2 separate regions of the Homo sapiens genome follow, and region 1 is linked to region 2. Evidence: fine-mapped expression QTL. A gene starts in region 2. The other region holds a variant in brackets. All regions are shown on one strand. Distances are between the middles of the regions.

Region 1 (2,900 bases), 48 kb before region 2:
CTCCCAAGAGATGCCCAAATGGAAAGAAGCCTGTGTGCAGGGGATTCAGCCGGGAAAGGCCGGGGAGAGGGGAGGGGGAAAGGGGGAGGAGTGGGGGGAGGCCTGGGTTGGGCATTGGACGAGGGGAGGGGGTGGGGCAGGCTGAGCCCAGACTGCAATGTGGGCAGAGAGAGCCTTGGCCAGGCCAGCCAGGAATGCCCAGTCTTGAGTCAGGAGACATAGCCAGGGAGCAGCCACCCTGCCTGCCTGCCACCCTTCTACCACCAGCCACTTCACTGAAGGAACGACATGGACTCCATTCTGACTCTGCCTGCACAGGCGTCCAGGAAAGCTGCAAGTCAAAACACCCAGCATCCCCGCTGGCCCCATGGTCTCCCGCTGGCCCCATGGTCTCCCACCCTGAGAGGGTGATCCCCCCGCCCTGCCCTGCCCAGCACTTACCGTAGCCGGACTTAGCTGAGCCCCCCCTGCTGTAACCCTCAGCACCGAGAGAAAAGGAGGGAGGATGGGAAGGGCCTGGGCTTTGACCCTCCCGGAGAGGGAGAGAACATGCTTTGGGACCCTCAGGTGGGAAGAGGCTCCAGAGACCACTGCCGCGGGTCAACTCATTTGCCTTCTCCTCCTGGAAATCGCAGAGCCTGCTGCAATGTATAAGTTTCTTCTTTATGTGTTTTATCAAGATGTTAAATGCTGCGCACAGAGGCAGCACAGGAGCTGATGGCTCTTGGTCCCCAGTTCTCAGTACGGGGACCTTTGACCCCAGCTCAGCCTTCCTTCGCACTCAGACCCAAAACCCAGTTGGAGCCCTCCCTCCTCCACTTTCCTGACTGAGGCCCGTGGCCTCTCTGCAGAACCTTAGTGTATCCGCACTGATCCTGGGGCTGATCCATTCGCCCAGAGGATGAAGTGCTTGCCTACCTCGGGGGAGGGAGTAGCGGGGTGGCCCTGAGGCCCTCGCAGGCTGAGAGCCTGTGGAGACGGACGGGGCTGGGGCTGGCGGCCGGCCGGGGAGGAAGCCAGGCAGCTCTGGAAAGCAGGGCCCTCGGTGCTCCCAGTCACCTGCCTTCTTGTCTCGTCTGTAGTATTTCTCCCGGCCTCCAAAGCAAACGACGTTCTGGTGAGGTGGAAGCGTGCGGGCTCCTATCTTCTGGAAGAACTCTTCGAGGGAAACTTGGAAAAAGAATGTTATGAAGAAATCTGTGTCTATGAAGAAGCAAGAGAAGTGTTTGAAAATGAAGTAGTCACTGTATGTACCCCCACCACAAACCACAGGCCTCCTCATTATTTAGACTTCTGCTGGCCCAGGGAGCATCATTTCTCAGAGATTAAGCTTAATTAATTA[G/GC]CCTATTTACTTACCGATGAGGTTGACACAATCCCAGTTTTACAGATGAGGAAACAATTTAGAGAATCGACTTAATCCACCTTTCCCTACAGCAGTGAGTGGGGCTGGAAGTCAGCTCAGAGCCCACTGGACTCATTTCTTCAGGTCAGGCAAGGCCCACACACTGATCAGACACCCAGCATACATTTTCTTTCTAGGCTTCAAGTCTGAATAATTCTCCTAATTTTAGATACTCCTACCCCAAACTAAGTGTCCCCACTCCCTACAGAGGTATATATCTTTAAAATTCAACTCGGTTTATAAAAAGCGAAAAGGTGATGTGACTTCTATATCATGTGCTTTTGTGGAGGGTGGCGTGGAGATTGGCCCTAGAAGGGAAGGGCCACGTTAGGGGCTGTGGGTGGTGGGTTTGTGCCATGTCATAGACTCTGGCCTTCCTCAAATAGGTGGTGGTAAGCACATGTTGAGTAATATATCTTACAGATACATTTAGTTACTATACATTTAACATAAACAAATAGGCTGTAAAACAGGAAAATTGTGCATTGTTTCAACCACTATTGTCCTATTAAGTGAATAAAATCAACATTTTCTTACCTTCAAGTTCATCTACAGGAAAGAATATAGAAAAACAAATATCCCATTTGTAACATTTTTATGTTTTAACTCTAAAGGATGAATTCTGGAGACGATATAAGGGTAAGTGGTTTCCTTCGTCTCCTCAGAAGTATTAATTCCTCGGGATGAGGTGCGTGGGTGGGCTTAGGACGCTTCACGACCCCAGCTCAGCGGATGCCAAGCCTCTGGCTCCAGGACCCACGGTGTCTCTCCAGGGAAGGGCAGCTCCGACTCTCCCCAAGGACCAGGTCAGGAAGCCCCCGGGCTCTGCCACCAGGGCCACAGGCAGTGCCTGGTTTGTCTTGCCCAGTGTCTGGGTAGTTTCTTGGCACTCTGGGACATGGGCCACAGGCCAGGAGGGCCCCCCCAGAGCAGCTCCTCCAGCCGCCTGGCTCCTGGGCTCCTGGGAAGCCTCATGCTGCAGCAGGGTCAGAACTCGTCTCAAATTTTGGAAAGTCATGGCCCCGATGGAGACTTTGGTTAGGAGACTCCTCCCAAGGGAGGAGCTCTAGGTGGGCAACTGCAGAAGAGCATGGGACAGAAGTAACACAGATGGAGACCCACGGGGCTGGGGGAGGCCAGGGTAAGGACCCACCTGGGAATGAGTAAGCAAAGAGCTGCAGCCACCACCAGACAAGCACGGGGACAACTGGGCACAGAAGGAAGCGGGAGAGGCAGGGAAGGCCGGAGAAGGGCTGATGGGGCGGGACAGAGGGGACCGCGTGCGGACGAAGAAAGGGCACCCAGCAGAGTGGGAGGCACTGGCAGCCAGGCCTTACATCCGGAGCGGGGAGCGTCCTGGGGGCCAGGCGATGGCATGGGGAGCAGCATGAGCAGGCTCAGTCCCCATTCCTGCCACCCCCTGCCCCCCCGTCCTCCTCCTGCTCAGGTCCCCGTCCCTGCCACCTCCTCACATCCTCCTCCTGCTCAGGTCCCCGTC
Region 2 (2,824 bases):
TACATCGCAAGCTTTTGCCAGCTAAGTTGTATGTGTTCTCATATCCAGATGTGTTTGTTCTCAAATCTATTTTTGCTACCCGAACCTGTTATGGTAGTTATGTACTTTTAAGCTCATCAATGAAATATGAATGCAAAAGGAAACAGTTGTTTCTCTATAAGCTAAGTTGTATGTTTTTAAAAGGCTCACTTGAGTTTGTTAAAAAAATAATTAGGTATGGGGGAAAAATTGTAAAAGATTAAGAAAATTCTAAAGATAATCGTATCAAATTGGTTCTTAAATGCCTATATCCTTGTTTAACTTTAAATAAACTGATATTGGAAAATGTTAAGTCTGCTAAGATTAGGCCAAAACAGACACAGCCTAAAGAAAAGGCCCTGGGCTTACATCAAAAGATTGGCAAGTATAGAACTTGAGGTAAGTGGTGTAAAAAAAAAATTGGCAAGTGAATGTATACTTTCATGTTTTAAGTTAAAAACATACATCCATTTCTTCGTGATTCCTGTTTTAACCAGTTTTCTCAATTAACCAAGCAACTGCTGGGCCCAATCATGTCAGACTTTTCAGCTATCAAGTACGTATCTTTACCCAGTTGTCAACAGACACCTCAAACTCAACATGCCCAAAACTTTATTTCTCCCTCCAAATCCACTCTATTCATCTTTTTCCCAGATTACAAGCCTGGGAATCATTCTTAACTCCTCCGTGTCCCTCAGCCCACCCATTCTTATTCACCACGTCTTGGTAATGTTTCCTTCAAATATTTTAAAAATCCATTCCCTATATTTCCTATCCCTGTTACCACAGTGCTGGTTCTGAAGACAGGCATAGTTTAGTGGAAAGAATATGCGTTGAATCTTTACAAGTGTCCATCTTTTAACTGTGCTTCTGCTACTTACAAGCTGTTGAACAACATCTGTCAGACGCATGTACCGAGCGATATGAAGTGTGCATTGTGCTCGGAGAGTGAAGGGCGTTAAACGACAGCGAGGACGAGGGGCACGAGCCCGGCCTGCAGCACGGCCACAGCCTCGCGCTTACTCCTCCATCGCCTCCTGGAGTCCCCGAATTCATCCCGCATCCTGCTGGGAAACAGCGTCCATCCGACACAGCACCGCCCACAGCGGGCCCTCGGCGTGGCCCGCAGGCCCTTCGGACCGCCTGGGAGCGCGGCCACACGTGCCAGCAAGTGAGGGCAGCGACCTGGGACCGCCGCGTCTACTTACACCGCGACGACTCCGCGATCCACGGACACCGCCCGGCCCCCACGGCGGCCCTGCAGGGGAGAACTCGGGCCGCCTTCCCGAGTCCCGGCCGCCGCTGTTCGGCTCGCGCGGCTGCCCGCCGGGGACCCGAACGGAAGAAGGGTGGCGAGGCGGGAAAGGAAAAGGCCTGAGGGTCCAAGGCAGGAGGGGACACACGGAACACGCCGAGGGCCAACCACGCCGCCGCGCGCTCCCCGGCTAGGACCCACCTGCTGCAGGTACTGGTTAATGGTAATGTGCGCCATGGGAGCGCCGCCGAACGGAGAGCGCCACCCCCTACGCCTCAAGCGGGCCAGCTGGCGTCACTTCCGGCCCTCGGTCCGTCTGGGTCCTGGCGCCCCCGGCCCCGCCGCGGGTGCGCAGGTTGGTTCCGGAGGGAGAACCTGGGGACCGGCTCGGCGACGCGCTCGGGCTGAGGGGGCCCGGGGTCTTTCTGCCGGGGCCCCGTCCTCTCAGCCGGGACGCCAGCGGCTCTGATTGTGTGTTCGGGCCCGCCCGGGCTGAGGGGTTTGGGGTCCAGTGGCGAGGACAGCCCCACGGCTAAACTGCCTTTCACTGCGCTGACCCTTCGTCTGCCCCTTGTGAAAACCAGGCCGCGGAGGACCCTCCGCGCCTGGCTGGGCCAGGGCCTCGGGGCGCGCGCGCCCGAGGAGGGGGAGGGGGAGGGACATGGCGCGCGCTCCCGAGCTCTCATAAGGTGCCTCCGCCGCGCGCTCCCGAGCCTGCAGGAGTTAGGGCACGTCCCGGCGCGCACCCCTGAGCCCTCGAGGTGGTCTCACGCCCGGGGTGGGGGTGCCGAGCCCTCAGGAGGCGCGCGCCCCGGGGCCCTCAGGAGGGTGTCCCGGCTCCCGATCCCCTCAGGAGGGGTGCCCGCGGCACGCATCCCCGAGCCAGGAGGGGGTGCCCGGAGCCCTGGGGGCAGGGTCTCGGTGCGCCCCCCGGAGCCGGGGGTGAGGGTCCCGATCCCTCAGGACGGGAGTCCCGGCGCGCGCCCTCGAGCCAGGAGGGGGTGTCCGAATCTCTTAGGGGGAGTCCGATCCCTCAGGAGGGATTCCCGGCGCGCGTTCCTAAGCCCTCAGGAGTAGCCGGGCGCGGCGGCGGTTGGGCTCGGGCACGCGGGCGGGGCGGGGCGGGGCGCGCGAGGAGGACGGGGCGGAGGCCGCGCGGACCGGGGCGGGCGGAGCGGAGCTCGGCGGGCGGCGGCGCTCGGGGCGGGGCGCGGCGGTTCCGGCCCAGCCATGGCGGACGAGGCCCCGCGGAAGGGCAGCTTCTCGGCGCTCGTGGGCCGCACCAACGGCCTCACCAAGCCCGCGGCCCTGGCCGCCGCGCCCGCCAAGCCGGGGGGCGCGGGCGGCTCCAAGAAGCTGGTCATCAAGAACTTCCGAGGTGGGTGCGGCGGCCGGGTCGAGGGCCAGGCGCCCCGGGCGGGGACCCCACGAGACCCCGCCCGACTTGGGGGGAAGGCCCCGAGATCCGTGCGGGCCCCGGGAGCGGGGGCGCCGGGGCGCCGGCCGGGTCGGGGGTGGCTACGCGGGGCGCTTCGCGGCGCGCCCTGAGCC

What was found. PIP is the estimated chance that this variant, and not a neighbour inherited with it, causes the effect.
Region 1: its variant is the best candidate, but not a certain one, in a credible set for the expression of PCID2 in blood mononuclear cells (TOPMed, PIP 0.51).

What each region holds. Positions count from the first base shown.
Region 1 is chr13:113,158,932-113,161,831 of GRCh38, forward strand. It overlaps PROZ (protein Z, vitamin K dependent plasma glycoprotein), which reads left to right. Exons shown (of 8, transcript NM_003891.3): 2 at 1,083-1,246; 3 at 2,017-2,041. Among named protein-coding and RNA genes, the nearest start is that of PROZ, 1.7 kb to the left of the region's middle. RefSeq lists an enhancer at 354-931. The variant G/GC (reference allele first, on the strand shown) is at 1,343.
Region 2 is chr13:113,207,125-113,209,948 of GRCh38, forward strand. It overlaps PCID2 (PCI domain containing 2), which reads right to left and starts at 1,545. Exons shown (of 14, transcript NM_001127202.4): 1 at 1,475-1,545. The coding sequence starts at 1,510. It overlaps CUL4A (cullin 4A), which reads left to right and starts at 2,489. Exons shown (of 20, transcript NM_001008895.4): 1 at 2,489-2,651. The coding sequence starts at 2,504. RefSeq lists enhancers at 600-1,250, 1,251-1,900 and silencers at 1,435-1,724, 1,985-2,254, 2,355-2,684, 2,745-2,824.